Linked DNA regions of Homo sapiens: all the other regions are linked to region 4. Evidence: fine-mapped QTL for protein levels in blood plasma. Region 4 holds a variant in brackets. A gene starts in each other region. All regions are shown on their forward strands.

Region 1 (5,763 bases), not on the chromosome of region 4:
TCAACATGGAGATCACACACACACATCAACATGGAGATTACACATACATCAACATGGAGATCACACACACATCAACATGGAGATCACACACACACATCAACATGGAGATCACATTCGCACACATCAACATGGAGATCACACACACACATCAACATGGAGATTCACACATATCAACATGGAGATCACATTCACACACATCAACATGGAGATCACATTCACACACATCAACATGGAGATCACAAACACACATCAACATGGAGATCAAATTCACACATCAACATGGAGATTACACACACATCAACATGGAGATCACATTCACACACATCTACATGGAGATCACATTCACAACACAAACATGGAGATCACACACACATATATCAAATGGGGATTACACACACATCAACCCCAACATGGAGATCACACACACAGCACAGAGATCACACATGTCAACATGGAGATCATACACACACATCAACATGGAGATCACACACACATCAACATGGAGATCACACACACATCAACATGGAGATCACACACACTCGTCAACATGGAGATCACATTCACACACATCAACATGGAGATCACACACACACATCAACATGGAGATCACACACACACGACATGGAGATCACACACACACATCAACATGGAGATCACTCACACACATCAACATGGAGATCACACACACATCAACATGGAGATCACATTCACACACATCAACATGGAGATCACACACACACAACATGGAGATTACACACACACATCAACATGGAGATCACACACACATCAACATGGAGATCACACACACACAACATGGAGATCACACACACACATCAACATGGAGATCACACACACATCAACATGGAGATCACACATACATCAACATGGAGATCACACACACACGACATGGAGATCACACACACACATCAACATGGAGATCACTCACACACATCAACATGGAGATCACACACACACATCAACATGGAGATCACATTCACACACATCAACATGGAGATCACACACACACAACATGGAGATTACACACACACATCAACATGGAGATTACACACACAACATGGAGATCACATTCACACATATCAACATGGAGATCACATTCACACACATAAACATGGAGATCACACACACACATCAACATGGAGATCACACACACATCAACATGGAGATCACACACACAACATGGAGATCACACACACACATCAACATGGAGATTACACACACATCAACATGGAGATCACATTCACACACATCAACATGGAGATCACAAACACACATCAACATGGAGATCACACACACACATCAACATGGAGATCACATTCACACACATCAACATGGAGATCACAAACACACATCAACATGGAGATCACACACACACATCAACATGGAGATTACACACACATCAACATGGAGATCACATTCACACACATCAACATGGAGATCACACACACATCAACATGGAGATCACACACACATCAACATGGAGATCACACACACACATCAACATGGAGATTACACACACATCAACATGGAGATCACATTCACACACATCAACATGGAGATCACACACACACATCAACATGGAGATCACACACACACATCAACATGGAGATTACACACACATCAACATGGAGATCACATTCGCACACATCAACATGGAGATCACACACACACAACATGGAGATCACACACACACATCAACATGGAGATTACACACACATCAACATGGAGATCACACACTCATCCACATGGAGATCACACACACACATCAACATGGAGATCACACACACATCAACATGGAGATCACATTCACACACATCAACATGGAGATCACAAACACACATCAACATGGAGATCACACACACACATCAACATGGAGATTACACACACATCAACATGGAGATCACATTCACACACATCAACATGGAGATCACACACACACATCAACATGGAGATCACACACACACGTCAACATGGAGATCACATTCACACACATCAACATGGAGATCACATTCACACACACAAACATGGAGATCACACACACATATATCAAATGGGGATTACACACACATCAACCCCAACATGGAGATCACACACACAACACAGAGATCACACAAGTCAACATGGAGATCATACACACACATCAACATGGAAATCACAAACACACAACATGGAAATCACACACACATATCAACATGGAGATCACACACACACATCAACATGGAGATCACACACACATCAACATGGCGATCACAATCACACACATCAACATGGAGATCACACACAACACAGAAATCACACACGTCAACATGGAGATTACACACACATCAACATGGAGTTCACACACACATCAACATGGAGATCACACACACTCAACATGGAGCTCACACATACACCTCAACATGGAGATCACACAACACAGAGATGACACACACAACACAGAGATCACACAAGTCAACATGGAGATCTCTCTCTCTCTACACACACACACACACACACACACACACACACACACACACACTGGCACAAGCCCAGCATTCATGGCGCAGCCATCTCTTGTACTTGCTAGCAAAACACCACCTGTGGAAAGTCAGCTCAAACTTCCAACCTCATCCCTCACAAAGGGGGAATGGAGGGTTTGGTTTTGGCTTTCACTGGAGTCTGCAACAAGAACTGGCATCATGCTGCCCATTTCCCGCCTCTCCCCACCCAGACCCCTGCCTCAGGGACGCCTGTCCTCAGCCCAGCCCTCAGCTGCAGCCAGGCCTTCAGCCTCCGTAACCCCCGCTCAGGGTCCCCACCCCCTGCAGCCCTGTCCCTCCAGGATGCATGGCCTTGTCCTGTGTGGGGGTGGCCGAGAGCACTGCCCCAGCCCTGGGTACCTTGGGCAGGAAGCTGGCAGAGGCCAGGGCTGCCATTCAAACAGGGGCAGGTGGTTTTGCCAGGAGGAAGTTGACAGTTCAACTTCAAACATGGGTGACGCAGGCCCCACACTGCCTGCTCCCCGTCCCACCCCTCCCTGAGCACGCCACCCCGCCCTCTCCCTCTCTGAGAGCGAGATACCCGGCCAGACACCCTCACCTGCGGTGCCCAGCTGCCCAGGCTGAGGCAAGAGAAGGCCAGAAACCATGCCCATGGGGTCTCTGCAACCGCTGGCCACCTTGTACCTGCTGGGGATGCTGGGTGAGTACCCCTCCCAGGTGTCCTGCGAACACCCGGGCTCGCTCCAGTGCAAGGAAGGAGTTCCCAGTTTTACCCAAGGCTGACTCTGGGATCCACATGTCAGCCCTCTGGAGCGTTGTGGAGATTTGGGGCCACTGGGATCCCTGCCTGCCCCCACTAAGCCGCAGCTTGGCCCTCTGTCCTGCATGTCCCACCCGCCAGGAGCACAACCTTGCCTCTCTCATGCGCTGTTGAGAACCCTGCTTTACCCTTCCAGTGCAAGAGAGACTGCAGGGGGGACCCGCATTTGATGGGGCCCAGACAACTTGATTCCTAGGCTGAGTTGGATTTTAGCAGAGCATTCAGGCCTCCCTCTGCGAGGTCCCCCACTGACAGCCCAGCCTTTACTTGGTCGCCTCCAGAGACATGGAAACTCGCCGTCTCCGAGGCAGCTCTGATGATGCTCTGGACAGACAGTGGGCCGAGGCAGGGTGGAGCCGCCTCTGAGGACGATGTCTGAGCAAATGTCAAGGACTCATAGCGGAAGTCCTAGGCCCTCTCATGCCCAGTCCTGGGTCAGTCCCAGAGGGGCCCAGCCAGGCCGGCTGGGATGAGTACACGCTGGGCCTGCTCTCACTCCAGCCCTGGGTTGTAAGCCCAACCCTGTGTGACCTCGGATAGGTCCCCAAGCCTCTCCAGGCCTTGATCTCCCCATTTATGAAATGTGGGGGTTGGGGGTGTGAACTGGATGAGGCCTGACCCACTTCCTGAGGATTTAGAAGGTCTGGCAGGGTGACAGAGGTGCGTGACTCTGGGCTGGAAACAGGAGGATGCGAGCAGCTTCCAGGCTGGCAGGGAGAGGGTCCGGAGGCCTTGCCTGCCTGAGCAGGGAGCCTCAGCAGCCTTCTAGGGAAACCGGGTGTGCAGGTGTGAGTGTGGGGGAATGCATGTGTGTGTGTCTGTGTGCATGTGTGTGAGAACTGTGTGTGGGGGAATGTGTGAGTCTATGTGTGTCTGTGTGAGTCTGTGTGTACGTGTGTGAGAACTGTGTTGGGGGGTAATGTGTGACTCTGTGTGTGAGTCTGTGTGTGAGTCTCTGGGCATGTGTGTGAGTACTGTGTGTAGGGGAATGTGTGAGTCTGTGTGTGAGTCTGTGTGTGAGTCTCTGGGCATGTGTGTGAGTACTGTCTGGGGGGGAATGTGTGAGTCTGTGTGTGAGTCTCTGGGCATGTGTGTGAGTACTGTGTGGGGGGGAATGTGTGAGTCTGTGTGTGAGTCTGTGTGTGAGTCTCTGGGCATGTGTGTGAGTACTGTGTGTGGGGGGGGAATGTGTGACTCTGTGTGTGAGTCTCTGGGCATGTGTGTGAGTATTTTGTGGGGGGGAAAGTGTGAGTCTGTGCGTGTGAGTCTGTGTGTGAGTCTGTGTTCATGTGTGTGAGAACTGTGTATGGGGGAATGTGTGAGTCTGTGTGTGAGTCTGTGTGTGAGTCTCTGGGCATGTGTGTGAGTACTGTGTGGGGGGAATGTGTGAGTCTGTGTGTGAGTCTGTGTGTGAGTCTGTGTGTGGGAGTCTGTGCGCATGTGTGTGAGAACTGTGTGTGTGTGCTTTCATGAGCACAATGCGGCCTCCAAAGGCAGGATTATCTCCCCAACACATGTGACAATGGCACCTGTGCACACATGTTCACATGGTTCTTCTCACATGTAACAACAACAGGTACAAAATGCCTTCTGTCCCAAAGTAAGAGGCCTGAGACAGACCTCTGGCTGGCTTCAGGGACCCTGCTAAGGAGGGACCAGGCCCTTAAACCCCCCACCTGCTCCTCACCTCTGGCCTCAGACTTCATTGAGATAGGGCGGCTCCCAGCTGAGTATGGGAACCCGTGTCCTGCTCTAGGGCCCTCCCAACTGAATCCCATCATGGGTGAGGCTCCTGATGGCACCAGGCAAGTCCCCTGGCCCAACACAGGCCACAGTCAGGAAGACTTGGAGGTAGCCCCTTCACCCCAGTATGGGGACCTCCTTGAACCCCAGGAATACTCAGTTCCCAGTGTCTGAGTGAGCCGGTGGGTACCAAGCATTCCCTTTGTTCAGTGGGTAACGGTTTACAAAGCACTTTTAAAGCCATTTTCTGCTGCAAGCTTCACAACAGCCAATGAAGTAGGTGGGCCCATTGGCCCCATTTTACAGTGGGGAAAAGCGAGGCCCAGGAAGGCCGAGTGCAAACCCAGGGTGCAGCAGCTGGTGCACAGCCGAGCTGACCCCAGCCCAGCATTCCTGCCTTCACAGAGGCCCCTCCCTTAGCTAAAAGGGAAGGCCACCAAAGGCACTTCCGTGTGCAGGAAAATGGCCCTGGGACACAACCTCCACCAGCAGAGATACAGCCACCAGAGCTGGGGACACCAAGGGCCAGGGTTGCTGGAGTCAAACAGTGCAGGCACCCTTTGAGCCATTCCAAGGAGAGAGGCAGCAATGCCAGAGCCCTGGGGACACCACAGCCTCCTGGCTGGCATCGGGGCTTGGGGACCTTTGGATCCTGAGGCATGAAGATGCCCCCAGCAGGCCTGGGTGCTAGTGACAGGCCAG
Region 2 (5,763 bases), not on the chromosome of region 4:
AGCCTGGCCAACATGGCAAAACCCTGTCTCTACTAAAAATACAAAAACTAGCCATGTGGCGTGTGCCTGTAATCCCAGCTACTTGGGAGGCTGAGGCAGGAAACTTGCTTGAACCCAGAGGGCAGAGGTTGCAGTGAGCCGAGTTCGTGCCACTGCACTCCAGCCCGGCAACAGAGCAAGACTCCACCTCAAAAAAAAAAAAAACACACACACACACACACATATATATAGAGAGAGAGACTCAAATAAAATGGATTAAAGTTAAAATAAATAAATAAATAACAAATATAACCAGAGCACAAGATCATAAGACATGCTTCAAACTGAGAAAGAAACCAAAACAAAACACACAGAGATAAGGAACTGAGAGGAAACAAAGCAACACAGGAAATAAAAGAAAAACCTGAAAGAACTGTAATTAACATCCTTAAAGACATAAAACATTGTGTGTGTAAAACAGGAACAGGAGGTGATTAAAAAAATGAGAATTAGAAAGAACTTTCAGAAATTAAAAACAGCAAAGCCGAATGTTTAAAAATTTACTAGCAATATTAAAAATGAAGTTAAAGAAAATATTTTTAAAAGTAAAGCAAAATAGGAGAAAAGAAAATGAGATGATTATTGGTTGAAGAAATCCAACACCCAAATAACAGACATTTCAGAAGGAAAAAGAAAAAAAAAACAGGTGAAGGAAATAAGCCAATAAGGAATACAAGAAATTGCCCCAGAACTGACAGTCTTTAGATTGAGTACCTTGCACAGCACAGTCAATCATTCTGTGGCCACACCAAGGTACAGCATCTTGGTATTTCAGAGCATTAGCATTAGAAAGGATTATCAAAACTTGCAGAGAGCAGCCAGTTCAGGGTGGCAACGAGCAGGGACTGAAGGAAGGAAATGTATTCAGCATCTCCTCACACAAGGCTCTATGCTGCTCCTTTACCTGGGTTATCTATTTGAATTACATTTAAGAAGGGGCAGTGGCTCATGCCTATAATCCCAGCACTTTGGGAGGCTGAGGTGGGCAGATCACTGGTGCCCAGGAGTTCGATACCAGCCTGGGCAACATAGCAAAACCAAAATACAAAAATTAGCCAGGCGTGGTGTATTGAACCTGTAGTCCCAGCTATTCATGAGGCTGAGGCATGAGAAGTTCTTGAACCTGGGAGGCGGAGGTTTCAGTGAGCCTAGATTGCACCACTGCACTCCAGCCTGGGTGACAGAGCAAGACTCTGTCTCAAAAATAAATACGTAAATAAAATTTTTAAAATGAAAATAAAACGATTGTTTCTCTACACTTGAAAGTATGATACAGCATACTGGAACATGTCAAGACTGTAAATTAGGAGACCTTAGGAACAGCCTCAAATTAGTATCATTCTAACTGTGCAACCTTGGGCAAATCACTAACGTCTCCAGATCTCAGTGTCCTCACCTACAAAAAAGGTAACTTGGACAAGATCAGTGGTTTTCCAAGTGCAGCATGAATATCATCAGTGGCATAAATACAATCTTAGGTGGCTCACAAATGGATAGGGGTTATGTTGACAGATAGGTAATTTTAAAACATGTATTAGCACATCAAACCCATGATATCGTAACTATTATTGTTTTTGTTGAAAAATTTTTAAGTTAAAGAAAAATATTAAGTAAATAGAGGTGCAAGGATATGACAAAAATGGAAAGTTTGCTACTCATTAAATCATTTTAATATCCAAGATTCTTCCCAGCTCAGTTATTCTGTAGTACATCAGATAGCAAAGAAAATTTTAAGAAGGAACTAGTATCAGCAATATGCAGTTATGGCAGAAGCTGTACCCCCAAAATCAGAGTGCTGGACGTCAGCAGAACCCCTTTAACTTCATTAAGTCCTTGACTCTCTTTTTTGACCACGGTGTTTGCCTGCTACTAAAATCTCTAGGGCAGGAGCACGGTGACTTCTATGTCACCATCCCACCTACCCCATGCCACATTCTCCATCAACAGCCCCGCCCCTTGTCCCTGTCTCCCTGGTGACACATAACAAAGGCCATCAAGCTCCCAAATCTTCAACTCCATCCTCTCCAAGAAGGACCCCAAAAGCATTTGTGTCCCAGCAACTGTGAACTTTTCCAGGCTGCCAGACAGAAGTTTATCTAATGGTGGTCAAGACCTGCCTGGTTGAATACTAGTAAAAACAATCCTTATTCACAATTTATTGCTATATCTACTTCATCTTCTCTCCTCCACAAGATTTTCCTTTTACTTTTAAAAGAGGATGCATGAAAACTTCATAAAGTAGTTTGCTTCCAGACTAAGAAGAAAGGAGGCTGGGTGTGGTGGCTCTGCCTGTGATCCCAGCCCTTTGGAAGGCCGAGGCAGGCAGATCACCTGACGTCAGTCGTTCAAGACCAGCCTGGCCAACACGGTGAAACCCCGTCTCTACTAAAAATACAAAAATTAGCCGGGCGTGGTGGTGGGTGCCTGTAATCACAGCTATTAGGGAGGCTGAGGCACAAGAATGGCTTGAACTCGAGAGGCAGAAGTTGCAGAGAGCCGAGATCGTGCCACCACACTCCAGCCTGGTGACAGTGGAGTAGGCCACATGCATCTGTGGTCCTGAGTAAATGCCCTTGGGCCCATTTTCAAAAGCCTGTTGGGAGAAAGCCTGTTACTCCTCCACTGAGAGTCTCAGACCCAGCTCAGATGGAGACAGGGAGAGGTGCAGGTGGATCAAGCCCAAGCTCCGGACTTCCCAGCTACCTCCTGAACCTCATCATCCCACAGCTCCCAAAGGACCCCAGTTACCTCGGAACAGCTCCAGAAACTGAGGGCTGTTTGCTCAGCGCCCCAGCATCTGTGCAGAGCACCGGAAAAGCTCACCAACTGTTTCACTTCCTGTTGGGGTAGGTTTTATTTCCCTCCAGTGTGCACCAGGGATCCAACTAGAGGCCGGGGAGAGGGGCTCTGCAGTGCTGAGGCAGCCAGAGTGGCAAGTGTGTGGCTTACATGCATGCTTGCTGTGTGCATCTGAGTTTGATGTGGGGGGCTTGTGCGCATGTTCATGTGGGTGTTTGTGTGTTCGTGTGTGTTTCGGTTTATGTGCATGTGGGGTTTGTTTTTTTTTTTTTTTTTTTTTTTTTGTAGACAGAGTTTCACTCTTGTTGCCCAAGCTGGAGTGCAATGGCGCAATCTCAGCTCACTGCAGCCTCCGCCTCCCGGGTTCAAGCAGTTCTCCTGCCTCAGCCTCCCGAGTAGCTGGGATTGCAGGCGTGCGCCACCATGCCCCACTGATTTTTTGTATTTTTAGTAGAAATGGGGTTTCACCATGTTGGTCAGGCTGCTCTCGAACTCCTGACCTCAGGTGATCCGCCCACCTCGGCCTCCCAAAGTGCTGGAATTACAGGCGTGAGCCACCATGCCCGGCCGCATGTGGGTTTATTTGTGTTGGAGGGAGGGTGTGTGTGTGTTTGTGTGTACTGTGTCTTTGAAAGGTCCACAGCATGTTGGTTTTGGAAACAAGCACCGCAAAGAGGCACTCCAAAATCTGTTCATGAACTCTGGGAAGTTCTCCTTCCTCAAAATGTGATTGTGGACTGTGGGGCAACCCATTAGACAGAGAGTAAAAAGTAGCTATAATAAAATATATGTTTTAGGGGGGAAATCAGGGATGCGGGGACAGGACAGTAGAGGGGGCAGGAGGTAGGAGACAAGAGCTGGGGTGTGAAGAGGACCAGCAAGAACAACGCTCCAAGGGACAAGTGGAGCAGACAAGGCTCCTGTACCCAGGACGGTCAGAGTCAGACCTCGCTTTGTAGCTGGCCTTAGCACTGTAGCAGTGGGGCCTCGACCAAGTTGTTTCAACTCTCTATACTTCAGTTTCCTCATCTGAAAATGTGGATAATAAAAGCACCCACCACAGAGGGTCCATTGTCAGAATTAAAGGAAAAACACATGCAAAGTACCTGCCACATAGAAAGCTCTTGATAAATATTAGCCATGACTATTCTTAGAAGTAACTATTGGGATGCCTCATCCAAGCCAATTAGAAATGCAGACATGGGAGGCTACACCAGGGACCTCCATGTCACATGCATGGTCTAAAGACTCGATTGCACCCCACTCCTCCCCAGTCCCACTCAAATCTACCCCCAAGACCCCAAATCTACCCCCAAAAGCCCACGGCAGTTTCAGTTCTGCAGCTCCCATACATCTGGAGCCTTGATGCTCCTTTTTGTCATTTTCTCCAAAAAGTACCAAGGTCATTCATTTAATAAACAGGAAGAAATCCCAAAGTGAAAACACAGAGGGGTCAGGGATTCCCTCATCAAGAGTTCAAGACTAGGCTGGGCTCAGTGGTGCATGCCTGTAATCCCAGCACTTTGGGAGGCCGAGGCAGGTGGATCACAATGGAAGGGGTTCGAGACCAGCCCCTACTAAAATACAAAAATTAGGTGTGGTGGTGCGCACCTGTAATCCCAGCTACTTGGGAGGCTGAGGCAGGAGAATTGCTTGAACCCTGGAGGTGGAGGTTGCAGTGAGCTGAGATTGCACCATTGCACTCCAGTCTGGATGACAGAGTGAGATTTTGTCTCAAAAAAAAAAAAAAGAGTTTAACACTAATTTTTTGAAAGTTAGAGGAAGCAGAATGCACCGCAAGTAATAAGGAGAAACAAGATTGATTCCAGCGCCGCACAAAGGGAAACCACCAATTCTGAAAGTAAATCATGTGAAGGGTTTTTTGTGGGTTTTTTTTATACTTTAAGTTCTAGGGTACATGTGCACAATGTGCAGGTTTGATACATAGGTATACCTGTGCCATGTTGGTTTGCTGCACCCATCAACACATCATTTACATTAGGTATTTCTCCTAATGCTATCCCTCCCCCAGCCCCGACCCCCCCGACAGGCCCTGGTGTGTGATGTTCCCCTTGAAGGGTTTTTTTAAAGACCAGGTCAAAGCTAAAGATCAAGCTTTTCTTTCCAAACGCTTTAGCTAAAAGTAGGAGCTAATTTTCACATCTCCGAAGGTGGCTCCAGGACTCCAAGTCACACCTTGGCAAGGGTGTGGCAGCTGGCAGAGGACTGCAGGTCCTTGTCAGGCAGAACCTGCCGGGTTCTGGGGAGTGGAGACTCAGATCTTGAGGTGGAAGCAGAGACAAGAGCTGGGCACACTTACCTGGATGTGGGGTTGGGAGCGGTGAATCAGAGCCCAGTTAGATCCTGGAGGCTGGCAGCAGGCTCTGCAGAGGTGCAGGGGCACCTCATTCAGAAGGGGCCATTTATTGGCCCTCTGTGGCTAAAACCAGCTCCAAGCAGGACTTTTTATGGCTGGAGTCGCCTCCAAAGGGGCGTCGGCCTCCACTCAGGTGTGACTCTGAGCGTTGCCTAGCTGAAAAGGCGTGATGATAGGGAGCACACGTGAGGCCATTCGGGAAGAATATTTTGCCAAGTGCAGAGGCCGTAAAAACGTGGAACATGGCTCTGTTTTTTATGCTCTATTGAAAATGATCATCAGAAGCAGAAACTGGGCTTGTGTTCAGAACCTGAAAATCTGCAGGGCAGAAAAACAGGACAAAGGCATCTTTTAGTGACTGCAAAACTAAACCTCAACAGAAAGATGCCTGAAGAGACAGGTGGATTATGACCTCAGAATTGGAGACAGGAGAGGTTTTCAGAATTAAAGATCATCTATGGCTACACAAACATTTGAGAGGTATTTTCATTAAAACATCCCTTTCTTCACACCAATATCATGAATTATATGCTATGCACAACCTATAA
Region 3 (5,763 bases), not on the chromosome of region 4:
CCGCCCGCCTCCGCCTCCCAATAATTTTGTATTTTTAATAGAGACAGGGTTTCTCCATATTGGTCAGGCTGGTCCTGAGCTCCTGACCTCACGTGATCTGCCCACCTCGGCCTCCCAAAGTGCTGAGATTACAGGCGTGAGCCAATGTGCCCAGCTGGCAGCACCACTTTTTGCTTGTTTTGTTGCTACCCTCTAAAAGGCTGGTCTCATAGCCTATATCCCTAGATTCCACTTGAACACTGTGACATTCCCTAATTCTTCCCTCTACTGTGGCTGCAGCAGTTGATTTGATGTTGAATTTCTTTAGCTCCTAACATATATTTGTCTTTCCATCTAAGTGTAAAAAGCTTTGAGCTTGTCAAAATTCTACAGTCTTTCATATTCTTCCAATCTGTAGTAGCATATATATACTGCAAGTCAAGACAACATTAGAAATAAAGTCCAAAAAATGCAATTGTGTAAAATGCAGGGTCGTCTTAATTGCACAGTGAATGAAGTGTTGGTTGGGGGCTGGTGGTGAAGCAACACAGCTGAGTATGTGGTTGTGGCTGCCAGACCCAAATCTCAACCCAGGCTGGAGTCTGATGCTACCTGGAGGCAATGCCCAGTTGACAGGGGTGATTCTGGGCCTGTAGCTGGCGGGACTCCAAGGACAGTAGCAGGGATTTCAAAAATTTTCCAGTCAGTCACACCCACTTGCTGGGGTGGTTGAAGTATACTGAGAAGGACAACACTGGAGACGCCGGGGCCAGCATCACTGGATGTTGCTCCCTGATTCCCAATGCTAGTGCCTTTGCCTCCCTGTCCTGATGAGAATATTAGCCCTCCCCATGTGAGGACAGGGCACACTTAACAAATGCATCATACCAAAATTTATATTAATTTAGGTTTTACTATACTTAAATGATAATACTTAAATTGGATTTTGTGTATTATAAGGCTGTGTCCTCCTATGGTCACAACTTCAAAGGAGGTCATTTCAGTGATGTTACTTTCCTAAATCTCAGTTTTCTCATCTCTAAAATGGGGATAATTGGAGTATCATCCAAATAGGGTCTATCTTAGGATTAAAGGAGAAAACATATGTAAAGTTCTAAACACAGAGGCTCACTCATAGTAATTACCCAATAAATGTTAGTAATGATTTTTATTATTACCAATCTCTCTGAATTCCCTTCTGCCTTTGCCCTCGCCTCCCATGCAGACTGTTCCTGCTCTCATGTTCTGTACCCAGACTCCTTCAATAGCTTCCGCACCTGTCTTCTCATCCCCAGGCTCATCCCTTCCACCCATTCTCCCTCCACTCTGCAGCTCCAGGAAGCTTCCTACTCCTACTGGATTCTTGTTGCCTTTAGCTTGGTAACAGGATGCTTTATCTGGGCTCTGGTAACCTCTCCTGACCGTATGTCCTGCAATCCCCTCTAGACAGCCCATGTTCTAGTCACAGGACCAAGGCTAGAGTGAAACAAGACACGCTCCTAGTGCACAAAATTTAAAGATTTTCGAGATTCTGTCACTTTCAATATTGTGCAACATCAGATCATGACCAGCCTCTAAAGATGCTTTCCATGGACATAAGCCTGTTATCTTAATGGTTTCTCTCTCTCTCTCCCTTCTTCCTTTGAACCCAGACTTCCTGGGTTCAAGTCCTTACTAACTATAAAACTTATAGTAAGCTATTTAACCCCTCTCCACCTCAGTTTTCTCATTTATAGAATGGGGATGATAAAAGATATCTCATAAAACTATTGTAAGATCAAATGAGTGAATATGTTAAAGTGTCAGAAGATGGACTAGCACTCTGTAAGCTTTCATCGAATATTAGCTAAAACTACACATTCTGCCAGCCTCAAGTTTTCCTGCCAAGTCCCCTTAATGTTACAGCCTAAGTAAACAAATGACCTGAAGCCCGAAACACAAACCATAGCATGGCCAGCTATTACGCTACTGACAAGAAGAAGGAGGAGAAAAAGACAGTTTCCCAAGTCAGGATATAGGGAATCATGCCATTCTCCAGCCTACCTTTTCAACTCAGTCACCTCTACGCTGTCACATACGATGTCCACCCCCATTGCAGTCTCCCTGATGCCTTTGTCCATATTAAAAGTCCTTCATTGCATGTGACAGAAAGCTAGCACAAACTGCCTTGAGCAAAATAGAAAATGTATTGGGTCACTGTATTAGTTATCTGTTGCTGTGTAACAAATTGCCCCAAACTTCACAGCTAAAAACAATAAGCATTTTTGATGAAAAATAAAAAATTGAAAAAAAATTTAAAAACCAAACATTTATTATCTCACAGTTTCTCTTGATAAGGAATCTGGGCATGGCTTAGCTGGGTGCCTCTGGCTTAAGGTACTCACACAACTAACATCACGGTGTCAGCCAGGGCTGCAGTCATTTCAAGGACCTCCTGGGGAGGATCCACTTCCAGTCTCACTCATGTGATTCTTGGCTAGCCTCAGTCCTCATGGACAGTTGGCCAGAGGAATCAGCTCCTCGCCGATTGTTGGCTGGGGGCCTCCCTCTGTTCTTTGTTTTGGAACCCTCTCCCTAAAGTATCTCACAAAACAATACCTGGCTCCCCTCAGTGTAAGGTAGGGAGACAGAGATAGTGGGAAAGACAGAGAGGGAGAGAGGGCAAGAGAAAGAGAGAGCGCATATGCACACACATGCTAACCCAAGATGGAAGTCACAGCTTTTTTGTAACCTAATCTCAGAAGTGACCCATCCCACATCTCTGCCACATTCTATTCACTTGAAGCAAGTCACTAAATCCAGGCCACACTAAAGAAGAGGTGATTACACAGAGGCATGAATGCCAGGAGGTACAGATCTTTAGCAGTCACCTTTAGGAGCCAAATTTAGAACCCAAGTCCCTTGATGTCAAAGCAAGTGATGCTCCACATCAGTCACAAATGAGGCCCTGAATAGACTTGGGACCTCTACCTGCCTGCGCAGATGGGAGGAGTCTGTGGTGTTTTGTATAAACAACCCTCCCTCTGAGACACACACACATACACATACACATGCACACACACACTCATATACACATGCAGAAGCTGTGACACGTGCGGAAGCTGTGGTAAGTGCATCCTCCTTCAGTCTCAGTTCTGAAAATAGATCATCATGGTGGCACCAAAGAGTCACACAGATGACTGGGCTCCTGGGCCTTTCTCCAGTAAGCCACAGAGGAGTCAGCTGCAAATATTCTCTTCTGTTCTACAGACCTCTCTCCTCTTCCTGCTCATGGGTAAGTCCACTTTATGGCCACCACTTCTTGCTACTGCGGTTCTTCTGAGGCCAGTTGCATTCCCTGCCTGGGAGATTCTTTTTTTTGTTTTTTGTTTTTTTTAACGGAGTCTCACTCTGTTGCCAGGCTGGAGTGAAGTGGCGCAATCTCGGCTCACTGCAACCTCCACCTCCTGGGTTCAAGCGATTCTCCTACCTCAGCCTCTTGAGTAGCTGGGATTACAGGTGCATGCCAACACACCCAGCTAATCTTTGTATTTTTAGTAGGGGCAGGGTTTCACTATGTTGGCCACGGTGGTCTCGATCTCTTGACCTCGTGATCTGCCCAGCTCAGCCACCTGAAGTGCTGGGATTACAGGCGTGAGCCCAGTTCTTGTTGGTAAAATCGGGAAACTCATCTCCTTGCCAGAAATTACTTTGCATGTGTGCATATTCGTGCACTATGAAGGGGGTAACATTCTAGCCCCGGTCTCAAATAGCTCTGGGCTCAAACTACATTTCTCTTGCCCTCACATTTTCCTAAGAAATGCCAAGTATATAATGAGTTTGTTCCCTGTATGGTGTGGATAAAACCCACAGAGGGATCCAGGAAAATCCCCTGATGAGAAGCCACCTAGCAATTTCCTAGGGATGGAGAGAACTTCTGGAGCTTCTTTCTATGTATCCTGCCTTGGTTATCATATATGCTGGCTTTATTACTGAGGTTTCACTGGGGACCTGGACGCGGTTAGGTGACCATGGGCAAGGTGGCGTTTATCTGGATATCCTTTTCTCCTCAACCTTATTCCTCCCTATCAAGGCCCAACTCCTGGGAAACATCTCTCCGCTGCATGGCCCGGAACCCCACTGTCCAGCAGATAGAGCCAATCCAGTACCCCAGAGAGGATCTCAGCCACCTGGGACTGTGGCAGCTACTGTCCTTCTGTGCTCCCGCTTTCTCCAGGGCTTCAGGGATGATGGTGCAGGTAGCACTAGAGATCTGAGAGCAGTGGGGGTTGGCAGTTGGTGCCTGAAGGGAGCTTTAGAAACACTCCTAGATGCAGATATGGGTGAACGAGGAGCCTAGACCTCAGAGCTGAGGTCCAGTCTGACCTCTTTTCACTTTCAATTTTATCTTGGCTCATCAAAACACACAGAAAGCAGCAAGGCTGTTTATGTTTACCTCCAACCTTTGGGGTGTTCCTTGATTGTGTTGAGCAAACCTGAAATAAGCTACATTCAAGGTCATCCAAGCCGCAAATGATCAATGCAGTGAATTTCAAACAGTTCAGAGCAAAGAGGCATCTCCATTGGTCTGGCTCCACTGATTAGGATGACCTCAAATCTCACTCTTTTGGTCTGAAAGGATGATGCTTTTGTATCTCCAAAGAGTCATTTCAGGAACTTAAAAGGCAGTCGAGTGAAAAGACCCCTCTCACTTTAGTATCAGGAACATCTGAAATTAAATCATTGCTCCATCATTTATTAGTGATGAGGGCCTCTATTTCTTAAGTGTAAAATATAGTTAGTAGGATGCATCATGCAACACTCTTACAGATTGTAGATGATCTATACACACACACACACACACACACACACACGTATAGTGGCACATAGTTGGCAGAAGCTATGATTGTTATTATTATAATTACTGTTACGTGCATTCTTTGGAAACTATTAAGAGACAGGTGAGTCAAATTCAGTTTTGCAATCTTTGAATGCTCTTTTATTATTTGTCCTACGGTGCAATTCAAAATAAAATGACTGGTACTGGGGACCTGTCATTGTACTGGGAGCTGCATTGCACTGTCTTCTGCAACAAGATTTGCCCTGTGAGGCCCACATCCTGCCCCCTCCACTGAGAGTCTGTGAGGCTTTTGTTTATGGTTTTTGTCTGATGTAAGAAAATTTGAAGTCAAAACGAGTCATATGCACCCAGTCAAGACCCAGCAGCTCCTGGGCTTCCAGGATACAGATGGGCAGTACTCCTGGCCTCCCTACTCCAGGGGCATCATGGACATAGGATCTGGACTCTGTGACTGATCAACCCTGTAATCTCAGGGAAGTGGATTAAATTCTCTAAATTTCAGCTCCTCATCTGTAAAAAGGGGCTAATTATAGTATAGTTATGAGAATTAAATGAGATAATTTACATAAAGTACCTAATGCACACATAGCAATCGTAAGCAGTCTCTTCCAGATGGGAAGAGCTCTCTTTTAGAAAACCTCAAACCAACCTCACATCAACTCAGCCTGAATCTGCCTAAAGAATCCACCTGACCCAACCTTCTCATGTCCAGGATCCCTAGCCCTGCATGCTCCATAGCTGCCTCTCCACAAGGTGCAAGTGCTTGGCTGATGGAGGTCTAAGCAGAGAACCCCCATGACCTGCACCAAGCAGCCTCTCTCCTTCCAGTGTCTGCATATTCTGTATCCTCTGGGTTTTCAGAGCTTGCTTCAGCTTTCTTCCGCCCCTCCAGGCTATGCTTATGCTCCTTTTTTGTCTCTAACATTTTCTACTTATTTTCCCAC
Region 4 (5,752 bases):
AGCAGCTGTCTCCCAGCTCTTTCTGGGTGTCTCTAACCTGACTAAAATCATTTTTGGAAGAAGGCAAGGAATTTTTTTTTTTTTAAGACAGGGTCTCACTCTGTCGACCAGTCTAGAGTACAGTGGTGTGATCTCAGCTCACTGCAACCTCTGTCTCCCAGGTTCAAGTGATTCTCCTGCCTCAGCTTCCCAAGTAGGTTAACTTTTTGATACTAGACAGTAAGCTTGGATTAAGTATTTTCCATAATAATGCTCATTCATCCATCCCGGCAGCATCCACTTCAGGTTCTGGGCTGGGGTGAGGGATCAGCCATCCAGGACAGGATCTGGAATTTGCTCTGCGCCTTTTCAGACCCCCTCCCTCTCCTCCTCCAGTAAGAAGGTCAACAGGACCTGCTTACGGGCCCCCTATTACTGAAAGCAAACTGAACCTCCAGTTAGTGTCCTGCCCAAGGTTTCAAAGGTAAGTAAGTGGTAGAGCTAGGGCTCTTCTAACCACCTGCAGAGCTAGGCCCAGGCTGCCAGATGCCTCCTTGAGGGCATAGGTGTGGCAGAGGCGTGGCTGGTGCTGGAGGGTCGACTGAGGCCTGTCCCACTGCTGCTGTACACCGATGAATGTGGGCTCAAAGGCTCTGGGGAAGGTAAGACCACCAGGGAGCTAGTGTGGCCTGGGGGTTCCCGGGGGTGGGCGGTCTCTCCCCAAGGCTGGTCTGGGCCAAGCCCTTGCTGCTGGGGTGTGTCAGATGCTGCCCTGTGTCCTGCCCTCCAGCGTCCCAGGAGGAGGGGGACAGCCAGCAGGCCTGCTCCTGTTAAGAGCTTCCCCACCTTAGAAAAAGCTCAAGCTGATTCCCACAGCCTTGAAGCCCCATGGTGGCTTCTGGGGGCTGCTGTGGCAGGCTCACCTGTGCCTCTTCCTGCTCTCTCACCAGGGGAGGCCATGCCATCAGCCTTGCTCTCCACGTAGGTGTGGTCACGCCACCAGAGCTCTGGCCTTTGACTGGTGTGTCCAGCCCTGCCCTGCCCCGACTTGCCTGTCTCTGCTGGATGCCTGAGGGCAAAGCCAGTAACAGACCCCACTCAAGCTGGTTATGAGGACCTGGCAGGGTGGGGTGTGGCCCAGTACCTCGGAAGACTCTAGAAGGACCATCCTGGCCCTATAAATGTTTGTGCCAAGACAGGTCCCCTGTCCCTCAGCACACAGAAGGGGCAGTAGGTAGCAAGACAGTTTCCAGGTAACAGCATGAGGGCAAGTGAGGCCTAGAGAGGAAGGGTCTGTTGCCTCCAGCCCGTCACATTCCCTCCAGGCGGGCTGAACAGCCAGGTGGGATAAAGAGGGATCCTCAGGTAGGCGGGAGTCAGGGAGAGCTGCGTGACCCCACGAGGCTGGTGTTTCATCTTCACTTCTCAGATGACGGGACTGTGGCTCAGAGACCTTTGCAGGGGGACTGATCACAGCACAGGGCCATTTGAAGGGAGCCTGGAACTGCATTTCCATGTGGACCCTGGGTGGATCTGGAACCAGGCTGGCTTTCCTAGCTCCCCCGCCCTTTGGCTCCCTTATGTTCTTAGCCTTCTTTTCACAACAAACTCAGAAGCAGCCAAGTAGTTGGTTGTGTTGTCTACAGTTGCACTGAAGCACGTTTTATTTCGGCTAAGTGACAGTCCTTTGTTGTCCCTGTCTTGTAATTAGTTAGGGTAGTATGTTGGTTATATTACGTGGAATTTATTGCAGGATGGTAAGGGAGCATGTGACAAAATGGGGCAATAGTTCTGTAAGGCTGAGAGAAGCTGGGGGTGTACCCAGTGGCTAGGCTACTCAGAGGGGACTGTCATGCTGTCAGTAGTGTAGTGGGAGCCAAGCAGGCTTTACTCACCGGCCTGTTAACAGCTGTGCGAGTCATGCCTTTCGCTTGTGTTAGCTCACCTTGTGAAAAAATGAGCTGAATTACAGATGACAACTAAGGCATGGAGAGCCGAACCCTTTGTCCAGGGTTGTATAGGAAGTGGCAGGGTCAGGGCTGAATCTTAAAACCTAGAGGGTAGGGCCCGGCGTGGTGGCTCATGCCTAAAATCCCAGCACTTTGGGAGGCCAAGGCAGGCGGATCACCTGATGTCAGAAGTTCGAGACCAACCTGGCCAACCAACATGGTGAAACCCCAGCTCTACTAAAAATACAAAAATTAGCTGGGTGTGGTGGCAGGTGCCTGTAATCCCAGCTACTGCGGAAGCTGAGGCAGGAGAATCGCTTGAACTCAGGAGGTGGAGGTTGCAGTGAGCCGAGATTGCGCCACTGCACTCCAGCATGGGCAACAGAGTGAGAATCTGTCTCAAAAAACAAAAACAAAAACAAAAAACCCTAGAGGATAAAAGAACTATAACATCTGGGATAAAGTTAGCTGTTGAAATAAATACAAGTCCTACCGTTGGGGTAGTGTCAGAGCTGGCCTACGTCTTTGACTTTGAGATTCCTAGCAGCCAGAGCAAAGAAAGAAATAGATTATTCCCACTGGAGCCACAGTGGCCATAACAAACAGAAGCCATCTGTTTAGATGCTGGGAATGGAGAAGACTTGCTCCCCAGAAATAGACGCTGCAGGATGTGGTGGGTGACAGTCTACTGTTCAAACCACAAATACCTGAAATGATCTGGCCACTTTGATCACCCAACCACAGTAGAGCCTAAGCAGGTCCAGGGAGCAGCTGTTGCTGGCCTGGCTTGACTTTTGAGGGAGGTGGAATAGCGGGCATGTGAGAGGAGGGAACCTAAAGCCCCCACAGCTGCTGACACAGCCCCCAGGTTTGAGCTTGTCTCCCCTCTCACCCATCCCCCCATATAGCTTAATCTGATGGGCATCTGGTGGTCCTTCCCTGCAGTGGCCAGAGCCTGAGCTGTCCAGGCTGAGGTTTCGACTGAAGCAGGGGTTGTCCTGCGCCCATGTGCCCACACGCTGCAACCTGGCTGGAGCCTCTGGCATAGGACACCCATACCACCAGGTAGCTGTGGCGGACCCCGGCTCTGATACTTGGCAGGCTTGGGTTGAGATTGTGGCTCTAGGCCTGGGCGGCTCTCAAGGGCTGCTGTGGGGAGTTGGGGAAGAACCCCTGGGTTGTGCTCAGCCAGCAGGCAGGTGGCAGCCAGGCTGGCTGTGGGTGAGGAGGGGAATCCTCTTTTCACCACTGCCTGCCTGCTCAGCAGTTCTTCAGCTGCTGGGGGTGGAGCTGGCTTGCAGGGGCCAGAGTCAGAGTGAAACCGGCAGCTCTGCTGGTTAATCTCAGCACTGACACTGGGGACTAGGCCTGGAGCGGAACTGAAAGGGAGACTAGGCCCGTTCCCCTCCAGGCCTGGCCTATATCCTCCCAGTGATCCTTAAGGCCTGCAGCTAGGGGGAAGGGTGGGGGCCAGGCAGGGCCAACTGGAAAAGTAGCAGAAGGAAGTGGCCACTCGCACCTTACCCATCTTGCAGACAGGAAATGAAGGCTCTGCAGGGCTGGCTGGCTGTAAAAATGGGCAAGAGCGCAGAGGCCCCACTCCCTGCACACTGCGCTGTGTCCAGTGCCCGTGTGGATGCCATGTGAGGCCTCACTCTGCCTGCCTCATCCTGGCTGCTGGACCTCTGGGAGTAGGAGGTGAAAATGCCCTGGCTGGTGCTGGTCACTTCAGGCTGGAATTTTCTAGTCATGCAGCTTTCTAGTGAGAGGCCGCAGTGAGCTGTGGCCAGTGTTGGTCATTCCTGCAGTCATTACTCTCCCCCAGCCTGTTGTGTCCGCCAACCAGAGCAGGCCCGGGAGCTCCCAGGAGACCTGCTGGAAGGGCCCAGGTGGCCATCCTGCTCCTGCCAGGCTGCCCTCTTACCTCACTGTTCATTGACTCTCCTGCAGGTGGGGAAGGGGGATAAAGGAGGTGGCCAGGCCACTGGGTCATGATCCTTCCGACAGAGGTACCTGGCAGCTCTGTGTGTAAAGCAAGGTTAAGCATCTGGTTTTGGGGGTCAATTCAACAGCACTAGCAGCTCCAGTCCAAGGTATGCCCTTTTGGGCTGAGGTGGAGGTCAGATCACCTGAAGCCACAGTTGCTAGAACATCCTTTGGGCTGCCTCTGCTTTCCATCCCCCTGCTCCCAGTTTGTTAGGGGTTGTAGTATTTTCCAGGAACACCTGAATGGAGGGGGCCCAGTGGGGCCACTTCTGTCCATTCCTTATCTCATCTCTTTCTCCCCTTTTCTTCTTTCGGCCATCTTTTCAGTCTTATCACAAGAGGAAGGGGAGGGGCAAACCCCCTCCTGAGCAGATTCCCAACCGGAAGCAGCTGGCTCCTTGGCTGCAGAGTGCCCCAGCACAGGAAGCATCTGCAGGGTCAGTTGAGACCTGGGAGCAGGTTTCCTGCTGGCAAAGGAACAGTGGCTAACTCCTATCCACCCTGCAGCCCTATGTGCCGGGTGTCCTGGGAAGGTCCAGGGCCAAGATTTTGTGGTTTTACAGTGGCTATAACTTAGGCTAGCCATGCTAGGCTCTGCCCCTTTGGGCTTGGTGTGATGAGACCGTCAGCAGCTGCTATCACCTGGCTGGGCAGGGAGCTGTTTGCTCACCAGTGGGAAGAGAAACGGATGTCAGACACATGGCAGAGTGGGAATGTCTCCAAGTCCAGGTCCAATGGGCTGGGAGGGCTGGCCTTCTGCCAGCACATGCTTCTTGGGATCTCAGTGTGAATGGTGTTCAGGAGGCTAGGGGAAGGCACCCTGGACCTCACTACAGGCTCAGAGCCTGCCCAGCAACACCATGGATACTCTCTCTAAAAGGGGGACTCCTGGGGAGACTATAGACAAACTCAGGCCTGGCTGGAAGAAAGAGCATCAGGAACAAGCCTTGAGTACCCCAACTTGGTCTCGTAGAGTTCAAGGCCCAAGCTACAAGCAGCTTGCTCCAGCATCCAGGAGGTCCGG[T/C]GGTGCACACGGCTTGAGATGCCTGACAACCTTTACACCTTTGTGCTGAAGGTGAGTGACAAGGCTTTTCACACCCTGGGGCAATACAAATACATACACATACAGCAGACCCAACCCTGTTCCCTTCCTCCCTGCCAGGTGAAGGACCGGACAGACATCATCTTTGAGGTGGGAGACGAGCAGCAGCTGAATTCATGGATGGCTGAGCTCTCGGAGTGCACAGGCCGAGGGTGAGGTCCTGGGCCCTCGTCCCTGGCACCACCTTTGCTGCTACCACCCCTGACCTGCCCAGATCCTTAACCTCAGCCTCTTCTCCAGCAGGCTGGAGAGCACAGAAGCAGAGATGCATATTCCCTCAGCCCTAGAGCCTAGCACGTCCAGCTCCCCAAGGGGCAGCACAGATTCCCTTAACCAAGGTGGGTAAACCAATAGCTAGGCCATTGTCTTCTGGGTACGCTGGAACCCAGACTCAGCCCAGGACATAAGGTAGCCCCCTGCGACCACCATCACCCATCTTATCTAACAGGTGCTTCTCCTGGGGGGCTGCTGGACCCGGCCTGCCAGAAGACGGACCATTTCCTGTCCTGCTACCCCTGGTTCCACGGCCCCATCTCCAGAGTGAAAGCAGCTCAGCTGGTTCAGCTGCAGGGCCCTGATGCTCATGGAGTGTTCCTGGTGCGGCAGAGCGAGACGCGGCGTGGGGAATACGTGCTCACTTTCAACTTTCAGGGGATAGCCAAGGTATGGGGTGGGGTGGGGTGGGGTGGGGCAGGCAGGACCGTGCCACCCCTCTCCACTGGAGTTCAGGGTCCTA

Alleles and levels. Alleles are on the strand shown, and positions count from the first base shown. The strength of an association depends on the size of the effect and on how common the allele is.
In carriers of allele T in region 4, the plasma level of the protein whose gene starts at base 3,072 in region 1 tends to be higher than with C alone (moderate association).
For the plasma level of the protein whose gene starts at base 2,867 in region 2, allele T in region 4 goes with a higher level than allele C (moderate association).
For the plasma level of the protein whose gene starts at base 3,116 in region 3, allele T in region 4 goes with a higher level than allele C (moderate association).

Evidence for each region. PIP is the chance, under the fine-mapping model, that this variant and not a neighbour inherited with it causes the effect. The UK Biobank Pharma Proteomics Project read protein levels with antibody pairs (Olink). The fine-mapping took linkage between variants from a reference panel, not from the people measured, so its PIPs are less certain.
Region 1: it holds the start of CD5, and the variant in region 4 is fine-mapped to the plasma level of the CD5 protein (UK Biobank, PIP 0.95).
Region 2: it holds the start of ADA2, and the variant in region 4 is fine-mapped to the plasma level of the ADA2 protein (UK Biobank, PIP 0.91).
Region 3: it holds the start of LY9, and the variant in region 4 is fine-mapped to the plasma level of the LY9 protein (UK Biobank, PIP 0.93).

The regions. Positions count from the first base shown.
Region 1 is chr11:61,099,418-61,105,180 of GRCh38, forward strand. CD5 (CD5 molecule) reads left to right here and starts at 3,072. Exons shown (of 11, transcript NM_014207.4): 1 at 3,072-3,198. The coding sequence starts at 3,144.
Region 2 is chr22:17,216,569-17,222,331 of GRCh38, forward strand. ADA2 (adenosine deaminase 2) reads right to left here and starts at 2,867. Exons shown (of 10, transcript NM_001282225.2): 1 at 2,788-2,867. RefSeq lists enhancers at 2,244-2,604, 2,445-2,514, 2,525-2,654.
Region 3 is chr1:160,793,059-160,798,821 of GRCh38, forward strand. LY9 (lymphocyte antigen 9) reads left to right here and starts at 3,116. Exons shown (of 10, transcript NM_002348.4): 1 at 3,116-3,253. The coding sequence starts at 3,130.
Region 4 is chr12:111,441,866-111,447,617 of GRCh38, forward strand. SH2B3 (SH2B adaptor protein 3) reads left to right here. Exons shown (of 8, transcript NM_005475.3): 3 at 4,888-4,989; 4 at 5,077-5,168; 5 at 5,260-5,354; 6 at 5,465-5,679. It overlaps LOC124903019 (a long non-coding RNA gene), which reads right to left and starts at 2,880. Exons shown (of 2, transcript XR_007063462.1): 1 at 1-2,880. RefSeq lists a silencer at 778-964 and enhancers at 2,400-2,519, 3,270-3,539. The variant T/C (reference allele first, on the strand shown) is at 4,939.